7 linked regions of the Homo sapiens genome follow. The protein of the gene in region 2 purifies or fractionates together with the protein of the main gene of each other region. This does not show direct contact. Each region holds a gene or a part of one and is shown on either strand. Other genes may lie near its edges. The genes, in order: CORO7, PEX7, IDH3A, MTAP, FMNL1, PGM1 and NT5DC1.

The links.
Region 1: the proteins of PEX7 (region 2) and CORO7 purify together in Homo sapiens (co-immunoprecipitation; one large-scale study listed by IntAct). This does not show direct contact.
Region 3: the proteins of PEX7 (region 2) and IDH3A purify together in Homo sapiens (co-immunoprecipitation; one large-scale study listed by IntAct). This does not show direct contact.
Region 4: the proteins of PEX7 (region 2) and MTAP purify together in Homo sapiens (co-immunoprecipitation; one large-scale study listed by IntAct). This does not show direct contact.
Region 5: the proteins of PEX7 (region 2) and FMNL1 purify together in Homo sapiens (co-immunoprecipitation; one large-scale study listed by IntAct). This does not show direct contact.
Region 6: the proteins of PEX7 (region 2) and PGM1 purify together in Homo sapiens (co-immunoprecipitation; one large-scale study listed by IntAct). This does not show direct contact.
Region 7: the proteins of PEX7 (region 2) and NT5DC1 purify together in Homo sapiens (co-immunoprecipitation; one large-scale study listed by IntAct). This does not show direct contact.

The regions. Positions count from the first base shown.
Region 1 is NC_000016.10:4,364,597-4,368,096, forward strand, and holds part of CORO7 (coronin-7), read right to left. Parts: intron 950-3,500; coding exon 895-949; intron 465-894; coding exon 407-464; intron 325-406; coding exon 179-324; intron 94-178; coding exon 1-93. Other genes in the region: CORO7-PAM16 protein, read right to left, coding at 1-93, 179-324, 407-464, 895-949. UniProt on the Homo sapiens protein: F-actin regulator involved in anterograde Golgi to endosome transport: upon ubiquitination via 'Lys-33'-linked ubiquitin chains by the BCR(KLHL20) E3 ubiquitin ligase complex, interacts with EPS15 and localizes to the trans-Golgi network, where it promotes actin polymerization, thereby facilitating post-Golgi trafficking.
Region 2 is NC_000006.12:136,843,092-136,846,591, reverse strand, and holds part of PEX7 (peroxisomal biogenesis factor 7), read right to left. Parts: intron 978-3,500; coding exon 900-977; intron 520-899; coding exon 411-519; intron 1-410. UniProt on the Homo sapiens protein: Receptor required for the peroxisomal import of proteins containing a C-terminal PTS2-type peroxisomal targeting signal. Specifically binds to cargo proteins containing a PTS2 peroxisomal targeting signal in the cytosol.
Region 3 is NC_000015.10:78,147,987-78,152,161, reverse strand, and holds the start of IDH3A (isocitrate dehydrogenase [NAD] subunit alpha, mitochondrial precursor), read right to left. Parts: upstream 2,801-4,175; 5' UTR 2,759-2,800; coding exon 2,732-2,758; exon of another isoform or gene 2,220-2,731; intron 1-2,219. UniProt on the Homo sapiens protein: Catalytic subunit of the enzyme which catalyzes the decarboxylation of isocitrate (ICT) into alpha-ketoglutarate.
Region 4 is NC_000009.12:21,801,315-21,805,435, reverse strand, and holds the start of MTAP (S-methyl-5'-thioadenosine phosphorylase), read right to left. Parts: upstream 2,801-4,121; 5' UTR 2,688-2,800; coding exon 2,655-2,687; exon of another isoform or gene 2,570-2,654; coding exon of another isoform or gene 2,486-2,569; intron 1-2,485. UniProt on the Homo sapiens protein: Catalyzes the reversible phosphorylation of S-methyl-5'-thioadenosine (MTA) to adenine and 5-methylthioribose-1-phosphate. Involved in the breakdown of MTA, a major by-product of polyamine biosynthesis.
Region 5 is NC_000017.11:45,235,385-45,238,884, reverse strand, and holds part of FMNL1 (formin-like protein 1), read right to left. Parts: intron 2,750-3,500; coding exon 2,641-2,749; intron 1,605-2,640; coding exon 1,528-1,604; intron 1,340-1,527; coding exon 1,246-1,339; intron 868-1,245; exon of another isoform or gene 322-867; coding exon 247-321; exon of another isoform or gene 1-246. UniProt on the Homo sapiens protein: May play a role in the control of cell motility and survival of macrophages. Plays a role in the regulation of cell morphology and cytoskeletal organization. Required in the cortical actin filament dynamics and cell shape.
Region 6 is NC_000001.11:63,596,411-63,599,910, forward strand, and holds part of PGM1 (phosphoglucomutase-1), read left to right. Parts: intron 1-3,500. UniProt on the Homo sapiens protein: Catalyzes the reversible isomerization of alpha-D-glucose 1-phosphate to alpha-D-glucose 6-phosphate. The mechanism proceeds via the intermediate compound alpha-D-glucose 1,6-bisphosphate.
Region 7 is NC_000006.12:116,240,353-116,243,852, reverse strand, and holds part of NT5DC1 (5'-nucleotidase domain-containing protein 1), read right to left. Parts: intron 1-3,500.

The sequences.
Region 1 (3,500 bases), on a different chromosome or scaffold from region 2:
CTGCTGGTTGTCCCCAGCCCACCAGCTATGGGGGTCGGTGGCAGGCACACAGCCGGCAGTGTCCGGGAACAGGTCCTCGTGGAACTCCACAGCCTGGCCGCAGACAAGCAGGCAGCTAGTGAGGCCCAGGCCCCCCGACTCCCCAGCCCCCGCAGTCCCTCGCCCAAGTCCCCCTCACCTTGCGGGGCACATGGTAGCCGATGGGCACGATGGCTGTGTCGCTCAGCTGTAGGACGCGGAGTACCTCGCAGCTCATGACGGCCAGCGCCTGCCGGGGCACAAGGGCAGCCCCACGCAGCACGCTCTCCAGGACACACTGGGTCACTGTTGAGGACACCATAGGGGAACAGGCAGGATGGGCAGGGGAGGGGAGGGTAGGGGATGGGGGCGAGGAAGCAAGGCTTACCTGGGCTCAGCGCCGGCTGCTGCGGGACCACCTCGTAACAGTACAGCTGCCTCTCGCCCTGAAATGAGTCTGAACTGAGCCCCGTTTGCTGACTGAACCCCTGGGGAGGGCCCAGGACTGGCATCAGCTCCCCCACAGGTCCCCAAGGACCTGAGCCACAGAACCACAGTGGCTGGAGATGGGGCTCCCCAACATGCTGGGCGCTGAGCTGAGCCCTAGGCTGACTACCTCACTTGCTCAGCCTCGTTGCACATGGGGTGAGCACCGGGGGTGTACGTCAGTATTTATGGAGTGCTGACTGTGTGCTGACACTGCTCTATTCTCGGCCTTGTTCTCAGGAAGGCCAGTGTTCTAGGAGAGCTACAGTCACCTTGGCTGCACAGGGGAAGACACAGAGGCCCTGTTCGAGTTCCTCCTCTCTCTTGGGGAAGGCCAGGGGCTGGACTCCAGGCTGTGGATGTGGGTGGGAGCCCCAGCTTCTCACTCACCTTTCCTGCCAGGACCAGGAGCCCAGAGTCAGGGTCCAGCAGAGGCACGAGACACCTGGGGAAGAGAGGGCAAGATGGCGGGTCAGGGCAGTGGGAGGGCTGCCAGACTCGTAACCCCATGTAGGAGCCCAGGACAGGCACCACAGTGACTGGGAGCCGCTTGGCCATCCAGCCATGTTCAGCCTGGTCCCCAGGAACCCCCTCCTCTTCCTGAGCTTCCCACATGCCCAACACACGCCCACACCCCAGCTGCTCCTCCCCAGGGCCTCCACCTGCACACCTGCGTCACTCCAGGACTGGAGTGGGCACAGGGGAACTCGGGCCCGATCTCAGCCACAGCTCTTCCTCCAAGAAGACCCCACATGCATTCTGTGCCCCTCCCACCTTCGACAGCCTAGACATCAGGCCAGCATTGCCAGGGAAGGTGGAGAGGTGAGGCCGGAGGCGAGGAGCCTCCCGTCCCCACTCGGCACTGCCTGTGGACAGGCAGCATCCGGGAGCAGTGCAGGCAGCCCTGCCGTTCCGAATCTGCACTAAGGTTTGGGGCCCTCTACTCAGTTACCCCACGTTTCCTGTGCCTCAGTGATATCTTGGAAGCTCAGAGACCCCCCCATGCTGAGTTAAAGTTCCTGTGTCCAAATCTGAGCCACGTGCCCGGGAGAAGGGGCTCCTCCGGCCGCTGGGCTTCCCTGCACACCCCAGGCCTGCTGCCCCGGCCGAGCCTGCCAGCAGCATGCTCCCAGGCCTTCTCTGGTCTCGAGGCAGGAGCAGGGCGGGGTGGCAGCTGGGAATAGAGTGGGCGGGCCGGAAGCCCCCAGAGCCCCTGCCACTCTATGTCCAGCTCAGCCTTGGCCAACTGCCTGTCACTGGCCGGGCTTTATGCCTCCCTCCCGGGGCCCCTCAGAGACCCCTGCACAGCCCCTCAGCCCTGTGAGAGCTGCCTTCCCACTCCAGGGCCTTTTGAGGGGAATGGGGACCTGGAAGGACTCTGACAGATGCCCAGATGCCCAGTTGCCTTCCTGTGTTTCTTGCTCCTGATCTTTGCTTTTTTTTTTTTTTTTTTTTTTAAGAGACACGGTCTCCCTCTGTCACCCAGGCTGGAGTGCAGTGGCACAATCATTGCTCACTGCAGCCTCAACCTCCTGGGCTCAAGCAATCTTCCCACTCAGCCTCCAGAGTAGCTGGGACTACAGGTGTGCACCACCATGGCTGGCTATTTTTACTTCTATTTTTGTAGAAACAAGGTCTCACTATGCTTCCGAGGCCGGTCTCAAACTCCTGGCCTCAAGTGATACTCCCACCTTAGCCTCCCAAAGTGCTAGGATTATAGGCATGAGCCACTGCACTTGGTCTTGGTTTCTTGTTTCTGGGACCTGCAGGCCTGGACCCTCCCAACCCAGACACTGACACCCTTAAACAGGACCCCGTCCCCACTGTGTTGCCAGGGTCAGAGGTCACCCAGCTGTGGCAGCTGCCTCTATCCCTCACTGCGGTGACAAAGGGCCCAGCCGCCCTCCACTGTCCACCCATCCCCTCCTGCCAGCCGACCACTAAGCAGTCCTGCCCACCTCCCCTCCCCACACTTCCAGGAGCCACAGAGTGGCTGGGAAGCTGGGTGGGGCCCTGGGTGTCTCCATGACTTCCTGGAGTGCCTTGGGCTGGTCACCTGTGAGTAACACAGGCCCCTACTTACTGAGGGCCCAGCAGGGTGAGCCGGGCTCAGCAATGCCCTTTGCATCCCGGCCTGACCACTGCTTGTAGAGGTGGAGGCGGAGGCGGAGGGTAGGGGACCAAGGTGGTGCGTGACCTGGAGTGCCCTCCACACTGACACTGGCTCCACTGGGGCTGGAAGCAAGTCCCTTCAGCAGCTTTGACAGGGCTTTCACTCATTCATTCGTTCACAATCATTCACTCCTTTGATGAGCTGGTCTGTGCCTGGTCCTCGGCTCGACCTGCATGTAGGTATGCCCAGAGATGAGTGCAACAGACCCTGCCTCTGTCCTCAAGGTGCTCACAGCCTAGCACAAGAGGCAGACAGACACAATCCCATAGACAAACATGTGAAGGGAAGGTTCACCGAGGACACACAGTGACAGAGCAGGGGGACTGGGCCTCAGCAGTGGGGGAAGGGGTGATCCCTGCGATCCCAAGGTCATGCAGAAATCAAACACCTCACAGGAAGAGAGTTTCAGAGAGAACACAACCTGTGCAAAGGTCCTGTGGCAGGTGGGTTCATGGCCTGTTTGAGGAACAAGATGGACAATGTGCCTGACAGCCTGGACAGTGTGGGTGAGGGCTGAGGCTCAGGATGGGCAGGTGGAGGCTAGACGGGAAGGGGCCTGGTGCATGTGGGGAGGGGGAGTTCTGCCTCCAGTGGACGAGCAATGAAAAGGTGACGGTGCGTTTCAAGCAAAAGAGGCTAGGCCAGGCCTAGTGACTCATGTCTGTGATCCCAGCCAGCACTTTGGGAGGCTGAGGTGGGAGAATCACTTGAGCCCAGTAGGTCAACACTGTGACCAGCCTGGGCAACATCATGAGACCATGGCTCTTCAAAAAATTAAAAATTAAAAAATTAGCGAGGTATGCTGGCTCACGCCTGTAATCCC
Region 2 (3,500 bases):
CCGCATGTTCTCACTCATAGGTGGGAAGTGAACAATGAGAACACTTGGACACAGGATGGGGAACATCACACACCGGGGCCTGTCATGGGGTGGGGGAAGGGGGGAGAGATAGCATTAGGAGATATATCCAATGTAAATGATGAGTTAATGGGTGCAGCACACCAACATGGCACACATGCACACACATGTAACAAACCCGCACGTTGTGCACATGTACCCTAGAACTTAAAGTATAATAATAAAAATAAAAAAATAAAAATAAAAAAAGAAGTAAAGTCTTAAGAACACAAAAGAATAGTAATATTCTCCTGTTTTCTCTCTGAAGCTAAGGTACACAGCGCCACCTAATGGTAAAAACAAGGCCACCATTCACTACAAGTAAGGCTTTTGGTAAATACAGAATAATTTACCTGAGGCTGAAGCAAAACAACCAGGGATGTGGGGAGACCAGATTGTGCTATAAATAATACTTTCATGGCCTCTAAAGGTGCACAGAGACTTTCCAACAGTTGGATCCCACTACAAATAAATGAATAGATCAATTACTTGAGGGATAAATTCAAATTTATGCTTTTACATATACTACATACACCAATAAACTATATACATTTATATATATGCATACAATATATATACAGATCTCAAGGATTTTTAAAGATCTGTTTTGATATAAAGCAAGACTGTATTTAAGGGCCAAACTAATGCTGAGCTAACTATTAGTTCACAGCCAAAAGATTAGAAAATTTTAAGTTCTAATAAGTGTTTTAATTTTTTTTTTAAAAGAAAGCTCAGCTGTCGAATCATAGAGCTACAGAAGTATGTTGGAAAAAGAGAAGAAAATTTAGTGGAAGCTCTAGAGAAGGGAATATTCGTTTTTGAATACAATAATGCTAACATACCAATTTGACAGTTTGATCCCATGAGCCAGACACCACAAGCTGTTCACCTCTGGTTTGGCTCCAATCAACACTATACACCTAAAAACATTGAAAAGTGTTTAGAAAGCAAAAGACCATCAAGTTCAACATTGCATTTTATCTCTTGTTACATAACAATGAGAGGCAGAACAACTAATTTACTATGTCAAAACATCAAATAATTCCTATCCATCTCAACAAGGTGTCTGAGAAATGAAAAGTTGATCTTGTCCATTCCTCCAGACTTATTCCTTACAGATAAGACTCCATTCTGCTTTCACAGAATTCTACAGTATACTTCCAAACCTTCTTCACTAAAACAAATTATACATATTTTAAAACCTACCAACAAATCACTGTTTGCAGCCCCACGAAGAAATGTCAAAGCAGATTAGAAAGTTAGTCATCTAAAAAAGCTTGCTGGGTCAATGTTTATTGGAAAGCATTAAAATTCAATTAATATCCCTATCTGGCCTTTCTTAGAAAAAGCTTGCAGGAACCAGGTGATCCTTCCAGATCTCTTGGTAAACAGTTTTAGTTATCCAATGCTGCTATTCTAAAGTATATGCTTCACTGCTCTCAGTGAACCATTTCAAATGAACTACTTGAAAACTTTTGGAAATGTTTTCATTCTTTCATTTTATACAACAGATTATACACAGATCACTGCTGTAAACTAAGTTCAACAAAATATGTGCATAATTATACTTTATGAAATTAGTCCTGACAAGGACCTGAGTATATGCCATTGGTATATCACATTGGTGATCAGCCAGCAGGTTACTTTGAATCTTACTACTCTCTCCCACATATACGTAGGAAGTATGAGTATCTGGGCTTAAGCCGCTTACATGTGGGTTACTTTCTCTCTGCTGCCCAGTACTATATTGAGCCATGTTGGAGGCTGAGGAAAAAAAACATCAGTAATACTGATCCCGTCACTTATAGGTGGAATCTAAAAAAGTCAAACTTAGAGAAACATACAGTAGAGTAGTGTTTGCCAGGGGCTGGGGGTGGGGGAAATGGGGATATGTTGGTCAAAGGATACAAACTTTTAGTTATAAGATGAATAATTTCTAGAGATTCAATGTACACCATGGTAACTATTATAAATAATAATGTATTACTGAATACTTGAAATTTGCTGAGAGTAGATCTGAAATGTTCTTATCTCACACACAAGAAAATGGTAACCATTCAAGTGATGGATATGTTAATTAGCTTGACTGTAGGAATCATTACTCAAGATATATTTAGATCAAAACCCTAAGCTGTACAACTTAGATTTTTCTTTTTTTTTTTCCAAAACAGGGTCTTGCGCAGTCGCCCAGGCTGGAGTGCAGTGGGCACAATCTCAGCTCACTGCAGCGATGACCTCCTGGGCTCAAGCGGTCCTCCCACACCTCAGCCTCCTAAGTAGCTGGAGTCACGCTTGCGTGCCACCACACCCAGCTAATTTTTTTCTTATTTTCTGTAGAGACAGTGTCTCACCATGTTCCCCAGGCTGGTCTCAAACTCCTAGGCTCAAGCAGTCCTACCGCCTCAGCCTCCCAAAGTGCTAGGTTTACAGGCATGAGCCACCGTGCCCAGCCTACAAATTTTTATTTGCCAATCATAATAAACCTGGAAAAAAGTTTAATAAAATTAATATTAAGCTTCAAAAAAAGTAAAATATCGATATTTTGTTCATAATGGGTTTTTTGCATTAATTTTTATTTTTAAAAACATTAACAAATTATCTTGATTATCAAGTTTTTTGGGGCCCCCTTAAATTGTGTACCTAGAGTGAGTGCCTCACACATTCTACCCTAGTCCTGGCCCTGCCTCTGCCCATATTCACGCAAAAGACAGAAGAGTAGTTGGAACACTAAAGGAAGCACAATCCAGCAACAGACAGCAGCTATAAAAGGAATAGAAGGGCCAGTGAAAACCAAAGAGCTGCTGTGGCCATCTGTTAGTTATGGATAGAAAAAAGGCTGGTTTGGAAGCAATCACTGAAGATCTTGAGAGCTAAAGAGTTTGATTTTATCCTCTAAATTTCGCCTACAAAGGACCATATAGTAAATGGTAAGTTTCTTCAAAAAAGGTACATTTCTTCTATAAAGGGCCATATGGTAAATACTTTAGATTTTACAGGCTATTTGGTCACTGTCACAACTACTAAACCCAGCTCTTATAGCACACACCAAGCAGCCATAGTCAATACCGAATGAATGCGCATGGCTTGATTCCAAAAAAACTTTATTTGTAAATCTAACTGCAGGCCAGATTTGGTCCTGGTCCACATGACGTAGTTTGCCAACCCCTGCTCTAGGCTGATGTAAACAGTCAAAAATAAAAATAGCAAACCTTTATTGAACACTCTGAGTGTCAGATCCTGTTCATAAGCACTTTATGTATTTTATTTCATTTAATCTTCATTTATATGAAGTAGATACTATATCAAGGCCCAGAGAGGTTAAGTAACTTGTCCAGAGTCCCAAAGCTAGTAAGGTGCAGATATGAAATCTGAACGTGGGCAGCCTAATTGCAGAGTCCACTTTTAATCGCAATGTGAGGCTATCTGTACAGCATGCTACTTGA
Region 3 (4,175 bases), on a different chromosome or scaffold from region 2:
GCTTGAACCCAGGAGGTGGAGGTTGCAGTGAGCCAAGATCTCACCATTCCACTCCAGCCTGGGCAACAGGAGCAAAACTCTGTCTCAAAAAAAAAAAAAAAAAAAAAAAAAATTGACATGAGTCCTTTCTCCTCTCCCAGCCCAAAAAAGAGGGAAAAGACATTCACACAAAACTAGCTTATGTCTCTGTGACAGAAGACCTGACCAATCAGCCTAGACAACAGAGTGAGACCCTACCTCTACAAAAAAAATTTTAAATGTTAGCCAGGTATGGTGGCACACACCAGTAGTCCCAGCTTCATGGAAGGCTGAGATGGCAGGACTTCTACTTTATAGAATACTCATATGCATATATATATATATATCTCACATCATTTTATTTATATAAAACCTGTAGAGATAGGCATTATTGGCACTTTTCAGATGAGGAAACTGAGGCCAGGTTCATGAAGCCTGGACCAAAACCCTGAACTTTGGACTTCAGGTCGTGGGCCATCTTAATCCACAACTCATTTCCTTTTTAACTTAAAAACATGTAAATAGTGTTGTACATGGGTTCTGAGATGGGTTTTAAAAAAAAAATCTTTTTTTTTTTTGAGACAGAGTCTTGCTGTTACCCAGGTAGGAGCATGATCTCCTCTCACCGCAGCCTCCACCTCCTGGGTTCAAGTGACTCTCCTGCCTCAGCCTCCCGAGTAGCTGGGATTACAGGCGTGCGCCACCACGCCCAGCAAATTTTTGTATTTTTAGTAGAGATGGGGTTTCGCCATGTTGGCCAGGCTGGTCTTGAACTCCCGACCTCAAGTGATCCGCCCACTTTGGCCTCCCAAAGTGCTAGAATTACAGGCATGAGCCACCATGCCTGGCCACAACCTGAAATGGAAACTCAACAGAGGAACTGTCCTGATTGAAACCGGCATCCAGCTCAGCACCTCCACCATCCTGGGGTCAGCCTCTGAGCCACCTTCTGCTCCAATCCCTAAAGTGAGAAGCTGGCCCAGAAGTCAAATGACTCTGCCAAAGGTCACACAGGGAGTGCATGTCAGAGAACCTCATCTTCTGACTCCACAACCCAACACTTTCTGAATACCTACTATGAGGGTTTTTTCATGCAGATCACACTAAAGGCAAAACAGATTTACCAGCACAATCATTATCAAGTGTTGCTTTAGTGCCTCACTGTGAAGGCAAATGTACCTACCAAAGATGAATTGGGTGTTAAATGTAAGTTCAGAGATTAAAGGACTGAGTTCAGTTTTCACAGTGACACAGAAGTTGCTTTACTTTTAGGAGCAAATGTGACATAAGAGTTATCATCACAAGCAAATCTGGGTCTGAAGAGGGTGACAAAGTAGAATCTAGTTATTGAACAAAAAAACCAGTTAATGATGCCCATGAAAACCACTGTCTGTTGGAGACAGATAAACATATTGATAAGAAAGCTTCAGATTTTTGTTTTCCTTCTGTACATACCAAGTGCTTTCACATACATTATTTTATTTAATACTCAAACAATTCTGTGATGTAAGTATAGATATTCACAGATGGGCATATTAAGGCTTAGAGATGTTTAGTAATTTGCTTAGGGTCACACAGCCAATCAGTGGCATTGCTAGGATTTAAATCTGAGACTCCTAAATTCCAGTACAGAGATCTTTTCCTTAAATAACAGTGCATCTCTGGACCTCTCTTTAAACCGAAAAAATGGGAGAAAAGTAGTATCAAACTTACAGAAAAACGTTAAATTGTTTATAGATTTCTAGGGGACCACCCTTTCATAGCAACAGGAGACTTGAGGCCTGATGGCCTGTACCATCATTTGCTATGTGACCTTGGGAAATGGGAACCAAGACACCTAGGTTCCTCTCCCTGCTCTGACACCGACCTCCTGTGTGACCTTGAGCAAATTCTTCTTCAGGCACAGGTTAGTTCCACTGAGAAGCTACGGAACTGCATAGATGATCTGAAACCCTTTCCAGCTCTGGCATCTGAGCTGTCAAGGAGAGCTAAAGCGCTCCAGATTGCAGGATTCCCACCAATGAAAGGTAAAAGGAAGGCTCTGCTGGTCTCTCTCTCCGAAGGTTCAGACGGTAATTCCGAGGTGTAAGATGCCCTATCCTATGAAGGGGAAATAGCTACAAGAGCACTAGAGGTCTGACTGGGAAGAGCGCCAAAGGGAAAACAATCTGATAGGGAAAAGGGCCCCCGGATTCTCTCACCTGGGAAAACCTCCCAAGCTCAACGCCAGTGCCCGTGGCACCTGCGGTTCCCCGGCCAAGGGCCGCGCAGACAGCGGATGAGAGGTGTGGGCAGTGCTGAGGGGATCAGTCCCGCAGCAGGGCCGCAGCCGGGGAAGCGGCCCGGATGGCGGAGCCGGGACAGAGGCTCCCGTGACCTTCCCGGGCTCGGCGCGAAGCCTGGGCTCTGGCCTGGGCGGATGCGGGTGACGGCAGCCGGGTCTCGGCAGGAGCAGGGCCGGCGCCCCCCCGCCTTGACCTTGACGCCGTCCCCGCCTCTGCGCTGCTGACCCGGCCCGGGGCGGCCCATACACTGCGAGCCGGCCACGGAGCGCGGGGCACGGGCGACCAGGACCGGCTCCCAAGCTGTCCCCGCGGGCAGCCACCGCCTCCCTGTCTGGCCCACGCGCCCGCCCACACCCGGCACGCGACCGGCTCTCCTGCCAGCCCTCGCGGCCTGCCTGCCTGCCACACGCCGGCCTGCCAGCGCTCACCTTAGAGATCCACGCGGGCCCAGCCATCGCTTCCCCTCCTGGCTCCGCAGCAACAGCCGCAGCGGCAGTGCGCAAGCGCCCACCCCACGCTCGGAGCCCGCCCCTGCACGGCCACGCCCCCTGAACGCCCCGCCCCCTAGACCGCCTCAGGATTGCTTCGCGCTCGCTCGCTGCCCCGCCCCTGGACATTCCGCTGGCGAATCGCCGGGCTCGTCTCTCTGTGACTGGCCTGGCTGAGCGCCAGGCGAACCCGGAAACTGAGGGGCCGGCATCTCCGGGAAAGCTTCTTCCTCCCCTCCCTGGTTCATTGACTCGCTGTTAAGGTAAGACGTTTGTTCCACACCTACTAGGTGCTGATTAATGTTCTAGGATCTTGGGGATATAGCGCTCCTCATAGAATTTACAATCCCGTGGAGAAAGACACATAATTTTCTTATTCCACAAATTTTGATTTTTTTTTTTTTTTTGAGACCGGGTCTCACTCTGTCGCCCAGGCTGGAGTGCAGTAGCGCGAACAGGTTCACTACAAAGCCTCGACCTCCTGGGATCAAGTAATTACTAAGCCCAGCCCAACTTTGTTTTTTCTTTTCTTTTTCTTTTTTTTTTTTTTTTTTTTTCTCCGTAGAGATGGGGCCTCGCTATGTTGCTCAGGCTGGTCTGGAACTCCAGAGTTCAAGCGATCTGCTTGCCCCAGGCTCACAAAGTGAGCCACTGCGACTGGCCGAATTTTATTTTTTACCAGCTTTATTGAGGTATAATGTATATATAGTAACATTTACTCACTGTAAGTGTACAGTTTGATGATTTTTAGTAAATGTAAACAGTTGCACAACCATCACCACAATCCAGTTTTTGAGCATATGAAAATGTTCCTTGTGTCCGTTTATAGTCAATCCCGCTCCTGTCCTCAATCCCAGGCAACTACTAATCTGTCTATTTAGCTCAACAAATATTTCTGAGGGTCAACTAGACACCAGGCACTGTTTTAAGTGCTGGGGCTTAGTGTCCAGTAGGAAAGACAGGCTTCAATCAAGTGTCACACACATGTCATTAAAACTGTTGCGCCAAGAAGCAAAAGAGCAAGGAGCTATGGCAAGGCAAAATCAGGCAACCTGATTCAAACCTAACCTGGAGGTCAGGGAATGCTTCTCTGAAGAAATAACATCCATACTCACCTTTCCCCTTGTCCTCTCCCTGTCCATCACAAACTCCTGAGTTCCTGCTGATGGCCAGGCCTCTAGCTGGGTGCCAGGGGAGGTCAGGTGTTTAAACCAGGTCTCTGCTACCCTACCCTGGGAAGAGTTCTATCCAGAGAGGAGCTGCCTACCCACCCAGAGAGGTGATGAGTGCAGTAGAGAAGTGATCCCAAGAGCTTTTATGACCTAAATAATAAACTGCAGCTAAGTCTGTGGCCTTGTCAGGAAGGAGGGCTTTTATCAACCCC
Region 4 (4,121 bases), on a different chromosome or scaffold from region 2:
CTAGAATATAAACTTGAAGAAAATAAATAAAGGCCTCGCTTACTCAAAGCTGCATCCCCATTGTCTAGCAGGTATTCAATAAATATTTTTGAATAGGATTCCACCAGTAGATGGCTAGATTTGAAAGATATGCCAAATATACTGCCAATCCAAAACTCAGTGGAATCTTTCACTTGCATGAGTTAACTGCACCTCTAAAATTGAGAATGAATTTAAGATCCACCCCGTTAATATCTCTATTTTAAGAAGAGAGGTACTTGGGCTGACATTAAAGGAGTACCTGGAACTGGGCTGAGTGTGTTACATGTTACTGTATTTAAATCCAGCAACCTCTCAAAGGACCTGCCAGTGACACCAATGGGGTTCAGACACACATGTGCCTCCTATACCTATACCTGGGTGGTGTGCAGTGGGCACTGGAGGCAGCCTGCTTTCTGCATACCCTCTGCCTCCCTCTTCAAGATGGACATTCTATCAAGTGCTCATTTTAATTGTGCATTAGGTCACAAGAAAACAGGGCAGAGACCACACTTCAGATTTCAGAAATGCCTCACATCTAGTTGGTGGAATGCCAGGCTCTAGGCCCAATTCTGTCATTATCTAGGTCCAGCTGTGTAATTCTGGATACTTAGCTGACCTTTCTGGGCCTCAACTTTACACCCGCAAAACGGGTTTGTGTGGCTATATGGATGGTCTTGAAGGAACACTCCAGCCCCATCATTCTATAATTTGGGAATAGGATGTGGTTTTTATTAACCTATTTTGCTCTGGACACTGGCACCTCACATCTTCTATACAGAATGTTGCCTTAGAAGTCTGGGGAATACGGTGCTGGCATCATGGAATCTCTACGGCAAAGCTGTCATCTGTTCTAAATTAAAAGAGAAATCAGCAGGCAGTCCTAGCACCATATGTACCTCTTAATTTTATATCCAGAAGCTTGCCAAGACCAAAAATACACACTATTCAATATTTACATCAGGTCTCTGAGAATCCCATTGCCCATTCTGCACTTAAATGCACTGCATTAATTTGAAGGGAAACCCTGTGGCAGGGAGAATGCTAACCAGATTAAAGTAAGACTGTTTTAAACACCATTTCTCCATTTTTAATGGCGCTTGAAGTGTATTCCTGCAAGGATAAGGTGAAAAGTTGTGGCCTAATGATACCTAACACAATAACTTAATAATTTTTGGGGAAAAGATCATTCAAAATTAATCTCAGTTCCCCCACTTATAAGCACTACCACTTAATAAGCTTCTACCATGTGCAACATAGACAATATAATTCTAGCCCTCCTAGCAAATTCTGCAGTAAAATTCTCAGTTTATAGATGAGCACCTAAGAGAAGTCACATACTTCACACGAGTTTCATGAAAACCATTTCTGCCTTGTTTCCGCCAAACAATGAAGGCAGGGGAGAGGCCTTCTATAAATATTTGCTGGATGCAAGATTCTTTTCAAAATGACAAAATAAGTTTCATATATAAGTCTGGATGCAACACCCTTCACCATTCCTCTCATTCTAAGTGGCTCATTTAAACCTGCAAGGGCGTAATAAACTAATCTGGCTGATTACACACTGACCGCAGAAATTCGCCTTCTCCCGGGAAAACTGCAGTCGAGTGTAGGGAATCGAGATGCTTTGGAGAAGATCGCAGACCTTCCTATCCCATAGGCCAAAAATTTCTAAAAATCAAACAAGAACGCATTCTTAGCCAGTAATAAACTGCCTAGAAGAGGTCTTAAGTTTTATCATCAATTTTTCTTTACGTGCTGTAATTCTCTCTCGGAATACTAACCAGGAGAGAAGTGTTTAAAACCCCAGGGAAGCCAGCTGCTACTCTCAGAACTCGTGCCCTCCTCAGCACAAAGCTTCCCACCGCACAATGACCCCTTGTATCAAGGCCTCTCAGGGCCTAGGGCACAAGGAAATTGAACTCTAACTTGCAAGGCTGCAAAACAAAGCAGTTTCAAGCCAGAGGCCTCCAAACAGTGCAGCCCTAAAAACGGACGCCTGTACTCCTTTTCGAAGAAAGTCTCAGAATTCTTACAGTATTACGCTGCTGGGGAAAACTTCAGCGCGGAGAAGGCCTACGTTTGGAGGAAAAAGAAGCCGGAAGCATACAAAAGAGCAAGTAAGCAGTTCTCCCACGTGGGCCGCAGGCAACAAGCAGAGTCAGAGAGCGGAAGCTGGAGTCCCGCAAGGCACCAGGAGACGGTCACAGAAGCTGCAGGCGCCCGGACACCTCCTGACTCCAGCCGGGTGTCTTTCTTGGAAGAAGAGTGGTTCTCAGGAATGGTGGTGGCATGGGTGCAGCCTCTCCCATCCACGACCTCTCTCTCTAAAGGGGTGCCTACGCCCTACAGGGTGCGGGTGCAGATAAGCCAAAAGGTGGTGTGTGTGTGTGTGTGTGTGTGTGTGTGTGTGTGTGTGTGTGTGTGTGTGTTGGCGGTGCGGCAGGGGGATCATTTGCAAGCGTACCCTCTCCTCGCGCGGCAAGTGAGTCCCGAGTGCCGCGCCCCAGTCCCTCCCCGCGGCGGCAAGGGACGCACGGGCCGGGCGCATGGCCCCCGGAGGCGCGGTCCCCCGGCGCGGGGGCGAGAAGGCATCCGGCAGGGCGAACCGCTGCGGCTGGGAGGGCTCATCTCACCTTCACGGCGGTGGTGGTGGTGCCAGAGGCCATGTCTGCACGGGAAAGGAATCTGCAGTGGGCGAGCGCTCGGGACTAAGGGAACCAAGCGAGCCACAGAGCGGTGGCTGTGCCAACCTCACTGCGCGGGAGTGAGCAGTGCGGAGACCAGGGGCGGGCCTTGACTCCTCCTCTTCCTCCCCGGGACAGCTGGATTGGCTGCTTGTGTGGGATCTCCCCCGCCACCCCTTCCCCAAATCGAAGTTCCCGCGTTCCGCCCCTTTTGCAGACCTTTCCGGTTCTCCAGGTTTTTGTCGTTTTTTTTTTTTTTTTATCCCCAGTTATAACTAACGGATAATGATAATAATGGAGACCATTTATAGAGCGCTGTATTGTTCCAGACTGTGTGTTTTGCACTTTAATTGGCTTACTTAACTTTCGCTAAAACCTTATAAGGAAGAGCAGCACTCCCTGCTTGGCCCAATATTAGTGGCGTCGGAGGCCTCAGCTGCAAAATCTGGCCCGGCGGCATTCCAGAAGTTCTCGCGGGAGGGAGAATCCTCACCAAGGCGGGTACTGGCCGGCCACGGAGATTCTCTTAGGCAGCTAACGCGGGGCGGCCGCCGCGGCGGGGGCAAGATTTGTCCTTCCTGCGGCTGCGAACCCACCGCGGGTTTGCGTATTTCCCTTGATTCCTGGAGGACAGAGCTGGGATGGACTTGACCCAAGACTCAGGGATGACGAAAGGGAAATAAACAGAGTAACGTAGTACTGGATAATCTTTCTGATTTACGAACTATGATTTACTCATCTTCAATTTGAGGGGCCGCTTTTAGGGGGTTGAGACCTTGCACAACTCCCAGTCTGGCTCTACCTGGCTGGGGGCATCTTTAACCCGTTCTACGCCGGAGCGGCATCGAATACACCTGGATTCAGAATCCAAACTCAGGTCTCCGTCATTCAACACTAGCAGGACGCACACACACACACACCACGAGCCCTTTACAGGGATAATCCCTCATGCTTACAGCCCCCGTCCCTTCCCTACTGGGGTAATCCAATTTAACCTTCCTTGATGGATTAAGCGTTCTGAAACAAAATAATGGGTGGCAAGGATCTTAAGGGTGGACTCTGAGATGTAGAAATGCTGCAAATTAGCCTGGACGTGGGAGGAGGGCCGAGAAAGGGGATGCTTTCCTCTTTCCTTACAGCAGCAAAACACGGAAACAAAACACAAGTACAATTTAATTCAAAATACCACTGTGTGATGTTAGCCTGGATGCTGCTCATAGAACCTATTTACTTAAACAGTATAGACTTTCGTCCTCACATTACTATAAGCTTTAGGTCTAAATTTTCTCACAATGTAAAGTTTTCTTTCTTCTGTTACAATCATCTATTTCTTTTAAGTTATAAAATGCAATGGCAAAAGAAGAATGAAAGTAGAATCCGGGTGCTCCTTTGAGGAATAGGAGACAGGGAATCCTT
Region 5 (3,500 bases), on a different chromosome or scaffold from region 2:
TACCCCAAGCCTCCCTCCTTCTCCACAGTTCTCACTCCACTAACTCCCAGCCTTGGCCTGCCCAACATTTCACCTCCATGTTCCCTCAATCCAGCCCCCTGCCAACATCCACCCTTCCCCTACTGACCACTCAGTCCTTACGCTTTGCGGGGGCAGAGCCCATTGCCCAGCACCCAGGACCCTAGCTGCTCCCTGCACCCAAGAGGGCCTGGCCCAGGCCTCAGGCTGCTGGGCTCCTGAGCTCACCATGAAGTCGATGTTGCTGTCCTCATTCCGGAAATATTCCATCAGCTTTTCAAAGCGGTGCTGCTCCCCACACACCTGGGTAAGGGGAATGGCTCTCACTGAGGCCCAGTGACACACGTCCTAAGCTACCTTCTGGCTGCCACACCTGTGCTTCAACAGGCTCCTCTCCAGTTAATTCTAAGTTGAGCCACGTCACTCTTCTGCTCAAAACCTCCACTCCCTCTCAATCTCCCACTCTCCCTCACTTTTTCCACTCTGGCCACACTGGCATCCTGGCACATTCCCACCCCAGGGCCTTTGCACTTACTGTTCCAACTCCCTGGAGTGCCCTCACTCCCACACCAAGTCCCTTGCTTCCTTCACAGCTTTGCTGAAATCTCACTTGCTCAGTGAGGCCTTCCCTGACCACCCTGCAACCAATTCCCCCTCCCTCTGCAACATTGCTGGCTTTTTTCTCACAGCATTTATCATTTCCTAACATACTATGTAATTTGCTTGTTTATTATATCGTTTCTGTCTTTCCCTATATGGTTTCCTTTGTTCACTGATGTGCCCAAGTGCCCTGTTCCTGACACATAGTAGGCACTCAATAAATATTCATTAAAGGAATGAATGAATGAAGATATCTTGTCTTATGCATCTTATGCAGCCCCACACATCTACTTCTTGCAAGCCTGTTAGCCAGAGTCCGCAACTCCTGGAGGTATGAACCAAGGCTAGTTTGGATCTGGCAAGGCTGAGTCAGAGGTTCAGCAGGTCCCTGTAGTTGTCCCTACCCCCACCCAGGTGGTGCCCTTACCTGACCCTGTACCTTCCATTCAGAACTTCCCCATCCCAGATTGCTGAGCCAGTGATGTGGCTCAACTTCAACTTTTGGGCGTTCCCCAAATGCCCACCCAATGTCCCCAGCTGCCTCCAGCAAAGGCCACAACTGCCAACAACAAGACTCCAAGCAACACCATAGGGGGAAATGCATGTTTGGGTGAGGGACTCCGGTACCTCCTTGAAGTTGTCAAAGGCTGCAAGGATGATGTCATGTCCTCCCCGCACCAAGCACACGGCCGCCAGCAGCTCCAGCACCAGAGCCTTGGTTCTGGAGAGAGAAGGGGCAGGTTGTCCCTTGAGAACAGGCAGGACCCGCGGCAAGGGTGGGCACAGGCCTGGCTAGGAGGAGCATAGTGGGTGCAGAATGAGCCTCTGAGACCTGGAGGACAGAGTAAGCAAGGGGCTAAGTAGGAGAAGACTCTAGATACGGAGAAAGGTTTGGGGCCTGGACCTCACCTGGGGTTCTTGTTGTTGAGGCTCAGAGCAATCTCATTGACACAGGCTGGGTGGTTCATGACAAGGCTGAAGCCAGACTGGGGAGAGAGGAGAGGTCAGTGTCTCCAGGAAGGGCCCCCCAGGACTTCAGGCACCCACGCCACGTGGATCTTTAACTGCCCTCGAGTTTAGGAAGTTCTTTGTATCCAACCGCAACTTCTGTGGCCACCAAAACCTGGCCTTGTTTCTATTTTTTTTTTCAAGATGGAGTTTCCCTCTGTCACCCAGGCTGGAGCGCAGTGGCGCCATCTCAGCTCACCGCAGTCTCTGCCTCCCGGGTTCAAGTGATTCTCCTGACTCAGCTTCCCATGTAGCTGGGATTACAGGCACCTGCCACCACACTCAACTGATTTTTTTTGTATTTTTTTCAGTAGAGACGGGGTTTCGCCATATTGGCCAGGCTGGTCTCAAACTCCTGACCTCAGGTGATCTGCCCACCTTGGCCTCCCAAAGTGCTGGGATTACAGATATGAGCCACCACGCCTGGCCTCTCTTTATTTATTTTTTATTTTTTTATTTTCATAGAGATGGGGTTTCAGTATGTTGCCCAGGCTGATCTCAAATTCTGGGTTCAAGCAATCCTCCCGCTTCGGCCTCCCAAAGTGCTGGGATTATAGGCATGAGCCACTGCACCTGGCCTCTTTTTAAAAACCTTTGTGTTTCCAAAAGCCAGCATCAGGCACCTTGGAAACCGTGAAGCTGGCTTAAAGGCGGGCTAAGTAAAGGAGGACCCAGCTTCACCCATCAGCCCTCCAAATGAATCGACCCGAGGCTGTTCTCCCCTGGCCCTCCGGCCAGCCCTTCTTGGTAGGTGAGCCCAGTCCCTATGTGAGGCTCCTTCATGCCCAGCCATGGGCAGGGGTACTCAGAGAACCTGACAGAGGCAGCAAAAACATGGGCTTCCCCTCAAGACTCATCAGCCTTAAAAGCCTGAGCCAACAGCCCAGATGCGCAAGTTCCCCAGCACAGCACAGGGTAAAGGGACAGTGGATCCCAGAGCCTCGGCAGCTTGTGTAGCCCCCAGTGAGGACAGGCTGGGCTCCCTAGTCGCCAGTCCCATGCCCCTCGGCTGACCTGGTAGTTCATGATGGCGCGTAGGCACATAATACAGACGTGGACGTCGTCCTTCTGGCTGACGATGCGGGAATTCCGCAGGGCCTTCCTGCTGTGGGCTGGGGTCAGCCTGGGCGGGGTGTGGAGGAGGCAGCAGGAGTCAGAGTGAGCCCCAGCTTCCTGTTTCCCCACCACTCAGCCTCTGGGGTAAGAGGAGGCACATCTGGAACCTGACGGCACCACATCCCATCTACCCAACCAAAGAGGCTGGCTGAGGGCAGGCAGGCTTCCTCAGTCCTTAGACCTGGGGTCTGGCATGCTTGGAGGAGGGGGGACACAGAAGCAAAGACACTTCCCAGGGACTTGGTAGGGTGAGGGTCTATAGAAGGAAGAGACATGGGAAGGATCACCACAAGGTGGCGCTCATGGCCACTTGGGCTCATCTTCCAATGTAAGACGCAGATCTGAATTCACACTGCCAGGGTTCAGGCGCATCCCAGCTCACCATTTACTGGATAAGTCACTTAATCTCCCTATCCCTCACTTTCCTCGCTTCTAGAATAGGAATGCTAATAATAGTAGCTTCCTGTCAGGGTTGTTGGGACTATGGAATAGGCTTAGAACAGTGCCTGGCACATAGTAAGTGCTATATGACTGTACTCCCTTATTCTTCGCCAACAAATGTGTGATGTTTTCATTGTTGCAGAACTGCCGACCGGGACTTCCACATGTCAGTCTCTCTGATGATTCTATCACATTCCCAGTAATACCAGGAGGCCCCGCCTTCACCCCCTCCTGCCACATCACCCTTTCTTGTCATTGTGCTAATATGTCAGAGTTTTTGTTCATGCTGTTCCTTCTGCCTGGAATGCTCTTCCCTG
Region 6 (3,500 bases), on a different chromosome or scaffold from region 2:
CACACCTGGCTAATTTTTATATTTTTAGTAGAGATGAGGTTTCACCATCTTGGCCAGGCTGGTCTCGAACTTCTGATCTCAGGTGATCCACCCTCCTCGGCCTCCCAAGGTGCTGGGATTACAGGCGTGAGCCACTGCGCCTGGCCTATTCCCTAGGTTTCTACGCTCAGGTTGTTCTCTGATTTTGTTCACTCTCTCTACTCACTCGGGATTTAAATATGCTACTCTTTCTCTTGTGATATGATTCAGTCCAGATGGCATCTTCAGAAACCTTTCTTGACACCCCATCCCTACCACTCTTCTCCACCTATTAAGTGCTCCTTTCCCATAGATAATTCTAGAATATATATATTAAATTCTAGTGAAATTTTCCGTTTACATGTCAACGGCCTCCAACTAGAGAGTAAGCTTCTTTAAGTCAGACCTGTGTTTTACCTGTATCTGCAATGCCTAGGACTATGTAGCATTCAATGAATTCTTGTTTATTTGCTCTGAACTGTGAGTCACTTTTGTATTCTAGCACTTGATTTAAAGCCAGCATGTAGCTGGTGACCAATAAATTTATTCACATCAAACATTTATTATGTGCTTGCTTTGCCTCAGACATTGTACTTGAGATACAAAATATTTTTGCCCTTGGGAAAGACATAGTCTGGGAGGGGTGGTATACAGGAGTAAGCAGACAGCACAATGTGTCAGGTGTTGTGATGGAGGGATGTGCAGGTGTCTTTAACCTGAGGGGCTGTACTTGGGAGGGGAAGATGAAGGGAGGGAGGCTCCATAGAGGGGTGGTAGCCGAATTGAGTCTTAAAGAATGACTTGGAGTTCCCAGAGTGGGTTTGTCTGGTAGGAGGAATTCTTAGCAGAATGAATACAAATTGAGGGAGTTTAGATTAGATACAAATACAAATTTCTAGTCCTTTTTTGTTTCATCCACAAAGGTTGGGAATAATACATACCTGAAGAGCCTGTTGTGAGGATTAGATGAAACAACATATTTACAAGTACCTCACTTGGAAACTGTTCGAATGATAGGTGTGTTATCAATGTTTTGTTGGTATTAGGACACAATCCAACGTGATGCAGATATGAGCCACCCAGATGGTCTCCCACCTTCCTCTAATCCTCAACAGCCTCAACCAATATAGAGGGGTTCCGTGTTAGTCAGAGCCCAATTGGGTACAAATGACAAAAACCTTACTTGGATTACTCCAAGTGAAAAAGGAATTTTATTGGCCCATGTTACTGAAAAGTCCAAGAGAATCCCAACGAATTCTTTAGTTGAAACTATTCCTGGTCTCTAAAAATCACTTCTGGGTCTAATGATCTGCAAATGACCAGCATCAGAAATTGAGGAGAGTTTAAGCTCACAAATGAATGTGTGCATGTTTTGAAGGATGATTTATCACCACCCTAAGCAAAATAAAATAAATACCTTTGTGGGAACTTATGAGCAAGGAGGGTATTTGTTGTTGTTGTTGTTGTCAAGTTACAGGGATTCTTTTGTCACGGCTCCTTTGCTACTCATTTGTGCAAACTGTGGAGCCCCTTCTCAGAATATATATTTTTAAAAATTTGAGACATGGTCTTACTCTGTTGCCCAGACTGCAGCACAGTAGCGCGATCGTGGCTTACTGCAGCCTCAGTCTCCCCAGGTTCAGTTGATTCTCCCACCTCAGCCTCCTAAGTAGCTGGGGTCTACAGGTGCATGCCACCATGCCTGGCTAATTGTTTTATATTTTTTGTAGAGATGGGGTTTCACCAAGTTGCCCAGGCTGATCTCGAACTCATGGGCTCAAGCGATCTGCCTGCCTCGGCCTTGCCTCCCAAAGTGCTGGGATTACAAGTGTGAGCCATCGTGCCGGGCAGAGTATTTTTATTTTTAAGTGAATAAAACAAAATACAAACCATTACAAAGGAAGCAAAATTATATTGAAGTATAATCAAAATATTAAAAAACCAGATTTGTGATATATCAAGATAATGCTTCTTTACTGACATAGGAAGATTTGTGGAGGATTTAATACTGCCTTACTTCAAAGTAGTGGTGAGTATAAATGATGTTTTGAGACGTCTGCAATCTCAGTATTTTGAGATAACTATAATAGGATATGAAAATATAATTTTTATTGATGATAAATTCCTAGGTAGTAGTAGTAATAGTAGCAGTAGTAGTAATAATACTGTGGTTTGCTTCCTACATTTATAATAAAAGGAGGTGCTAAATTTCAGTTAGATGTTAGTGAAAATAAAGATTGTTTTGTTTATTTTGTCATTCATATTCATGGATCCCATTGAATTCTACCCAAGGACCTCTTGAGGTAGGGGAAGGGGATGTAAGCATCCCAAGTTAAGAACCCCACACTAAACAATGATCCTTTTTTAGCATCAGGTGATGCCTGCACCAAAATGGACCTCAAACACATGACCCAGAGGTTAAGGGTCTCATGTTCTCAGAGCAAACTAGTGGGACTTTGCAAACTTCGCCTTATAGTGGAGGAACTCCACTGTCTCCCGCTTGAAGTGAACCACCCTTTTCTGAACTTTCATGAGATCCATCTGCAAACACTGCTGAAGGAACATGTTTCTGGCTATAGCAGTTCACATTTCTTGAAAAGGAAATAAAAGAACACTGAGCAGGAAGGGGAAGGTTTTGAGACTCTTGGGTAGTTGGAGTTAGGTGGAGACACCTTGCTACTTTAACTTTAAACCTTATATCCCTGGGGCAGGGATGACTTGGCAGAGAAACACCTTCAAGTCACTTTTTTTTTTGAGACACTGTCTTGCTCTGTTGCCCTAGGCTGGAGTGCAGTTGCAGGATCTTGGCTCACTGTAACCTCCGCCTCCTGGGTTCAAGTGATTCTTCTGCCTCAGCCTCCTGAGTAGGTGGGACTACAGGCGTGCACCACCATACCCAGCTAATTTTTGTATTTTTAGTAGAAACGAGGTTTCACCATGTTGGCCAGGATGGTCTGGATCTCTTGACCTCATCATCCGCCCGCCTCGGCCTCACAAAGTGCTGGGATTACAGGCGTGAGCCACCACACCCGGCCCAAGTCACTTTTTAACATGCTGTAACCCCCACTTTAAAAAAAAAAAAAACCACTTTTTAATTATGGTGGGGCCGGGCATGGTGGCTTACCGCACTTGAGTGGGTCACTTGAGCCCAGGAGTTCCAAACCAGCTTGGACAACATGGTGAAACCCCTTGTCTACAAAAAATAAAAAAACTTAATCTGGTGTGGTTTCGGGCGCCTGTGGTCTCGGCTACTTGAGACACTGAGGTAGGAGGATCACATTCACCCTGTGAGGTCAAGGCTTCAGTGAGCTGTGATTGCACCACTGCACTCCAGCCTTGGCGATGGCAAGACCCTGTCTCAAAAATAAATAAATAAATAAATATAAAATGAATTATGGTGGGCTTTGAACAATTGTTCTCCCCTTGTTTACACTTTCTGATTTTGAATCAGCACTGAATGCCAGTATGGATAACCTATTGTC
Region 7 (3,500 bases), about 21 Mb from region 2:
CAAATCAAAACTTGATATTCACTAATAAAACTTATTTTTTAGACGTAAAATTTTAATATTTCTTTTGCTCCTTCAGTAGGTCTGTGTGTAGCTATTATTATAAGGTTAAAAATGTGTATAAACCAACCACCATTGTAATACATATGGCTAATAAAGACAAACTTTTACAACAGCTATAAAAAAGGCTTCTAGGCATTTAAATGTGAATGAGATAACCATGTCTAACAGAATATCCACAAGTATAGAAACATTACTTGAATATAAAAAGGTTTTAAGAGGCAAAAGGGATGTACCAGGTTATTTTTCACTTCCTATCTCATTTAAAACAATTTAATTTTATTCTTTCTCCCATATTACAGAAAAGGTCTATCAAAGGTCACTTAGGATGAAGAGTTAGATATCTTTCTCTATGCAATTTATAATAATGTTTAAGTCAAATCACATTTAGAGATATCTCAAATCATCCCGAGCTCTATGTGAGTTTAATTTTAATACTCTGCACAGAAGTTAATACAAAAATATGAAAGCTTATCTGAATAAAAATTTAAAAAAAACTCCCAGGCCCTCCTCAGAGGATCATGTAAAACTGGTGAATGAGACCTAATAATCTTCTTCATAGTCACAGGATGAGGGTTACTAAGAATAATCTTCAAATGCTTAGCTAAATAAGAATTTTAATACATACAACATGGCAACTTTCTTCAATTTAAGGAAGAAGAATCGGAAGTTCAAAAAAATTAACTAGACTTCTAACTTCAACTGGAAAATCTGGATAAAATATAAACACGAGACTGAAGTGTCACCAGAGAGCTAAAGAGGCAACCAAGACTTGAGGCACAATTCTTGGGAAGGAGGAACCAGCGGAGAGAGGAGCTAACACTAAGCCTCAGCTTTTCTCCTCTGGTGCTGGAATTCTGGCTGGTGGTAAGGGCTACTACAAGCAGCAGAAAAACCAGTAGAGATTTTGACAGTCTTGCAGGGCTGCAGAGACAAAAATTGAGGGGCTAGGACCACTGTAAAGGAAGGGTCAGAGAACTGGACTCTGCTGGTTGTCTCCTCAAACCCTTTGCCAAATGCTGAAGGAAATTTGCAAACTAAGAATCCAAGCGGAAAGCATATGCCTCTATAAAGGAGAGTGGATGTTTTCTTTTTTAGGCATTTTCTTGGTATTGTGAAAATGGAAAGATTAAATTCTGACCTGAGAGAGGAGAGGGGACTTTGTGAGTATCTTAGACTGGCAGTTATATAGTTCTGAGAACTAGGAGTTTATAATTATGAAGTGATCTCTCTCATGCTAATCATTTTTCCCCTTAATATCTACTTTGTTTCATATTAATGCAGCCACTCTCTCTCTCTCTTTTTTTTTTTTTGGTTACTGTTAGCATGGTATTATTTCGTCCGTCTTTTGATATTTAAACTTTCAAACTTTCTGAATCCTTATGTCTCAGATATATCTCTTATAAACAACTTATAATTGGGTATTGTTATTTTTATTTTTTTATTTTTATTTTGAGACAAGAGTCTTGCTCTGTTGCCCAGGCTGGAGTGCAGTGGCGCAATCTCCGCCTCCCGGGTTCACGCCATTCTCCTACCTCAGCCTCCCACAGGCGCCCGCCACCATACCCGGCTAATTTTTTGTATTTTTTAGTAGAGATGGGGTTTCACCGTGTTAGCCAAGATGGTCTCGATCTCCTGACCTCGTGATCCGCCCGCCTCCGCCTCCCAAAGTGCAAGGATTACAAGGCGTTGAGCTACCGTGCCCTGCCGGGTATTGTTATTTTTTTAAAATTGGCTATTAATTGGAGTATTTGGTCACATACATTTAATGTAATTACTTCAGGTTTAAATTAAACATTTTACTAAATGCTTTCCATTTGTCTTGCTGATTCTTTGTTTTTTTTTTTTTTTGTTTTGTTTTTTTTTTTTTTTTGAGACGGAGTCTTGCTCTGTCACCCAGGCTGGAGTGCAGTGGCGCGATCTCGGCTCACTGCAAGCTCCGCCCCCCGGGTTCATGCCATTCTCCTGCCTCGGCCTCCTGAGTAGCTGGGACTACAGGCGCCCGCCACCACGCCTGGCTAATTTTTTGTATTTTTGGTAGAGACGGGGTTTCACCGTGTTAGCCAGGATGGTCTTGATCTCCTGACCTGGTGATCCTCCCGCCTCGGCCTCCCAAAGTGCTGGGATTACAGGCGTGAGCCACCGCACCCGGCCGTCTTGCTGATTCTTAATATTCTCTCATCTCCTTTGTTTTCTTTTAGATTCTTAAATTATTTTACATATTAGCTTGGTATATGTATATCATCACAATTCTCTTGAGAGTTATTTTTGAGATTACAACATGCATTTCTGACATCAATACTGAACATAGTCTTATCCTTAATTGTTTAATTCTAGCATGTTAGAACATGTTAATTTTTGCTGCCCCACTCTGGCATATATATGCCATTACTGTCAGGCATTTTAATTCTCTATGTAAATCCCATGGGACTTTAATTTTTATTGTTTCAAACAGTAAGCATTCATTTTTTATTCATATACTTACACCATATACTTATATACATTCTTCTTGCATCTCCAGTCTTCTGACATGAATTATTTTTAATTGTACCTGGAGAATAATAATCTTTATTTCCTTTAGTGCAGGTTTCTGGACATACATTTTCTCTATTATTCCCTGTCTAAAAATATTTTACTTTTTTTTTTTTTTTTTTGAGACAGTCTTGCTCTGTTACCCAGGCTGGAGTGCAGTGGTGTGATCTCAGCTCACTGCAACCTCTGCCTCCCAGGTTCAAGCAATTCTCCTGCCTCAACCTCCAGAGTAGCTGGGATTACAGGCACCTGCTACCACACCCGGCTAATTTTTGTACTTTTAGTAGAGACGGGGTTTCACCATGTTGGCCAGACTGGTCTCAAACTCCTGACTTCAGGTGATCCGCCCACCTCGGCCTCCCAAAGTGCTGGGATTACAGGCGTGAGCCACCACATCCGGCCAATATTTTACTTTTATTCTTTACAATGTTTAACTGGGTATATAATTCCATCAAGATTCACATCATTTTCTTTCAGCAATTTAAAGCTATCATTCTATTGTCTTTGACTCTCCTCTGTTTCTGATAAGTCAGATGTCAATCTGTTATTTAATCTATATTTATGCTCTTGATTGCTTTTAATATTTAATTATCTTTGGCATTTAGCAGTTAACTCTGAATTTATTTTTTCTTCATTTTGTTTCATTTCTTTGGGCTTCTTAAACCTTTGGCTTATTTTTTTCCCCATCATTTTCTCTCATCTCACTTATTCTCTCATCTCCTGGGACTCCAATCACAGATGCCCCTCAGTAACTGCAGGGGACCCCTGTGGATACCAAAGCCTGTGCATGCTCAAGTCAGAAAATGGCATAATATTTGCATTAAACCTACATACATCTTCCTGTATACTTTAATTCATCACTAGATTACTTAATATCCAATACAATGTAAATGCTATGTAAATAGTTATTA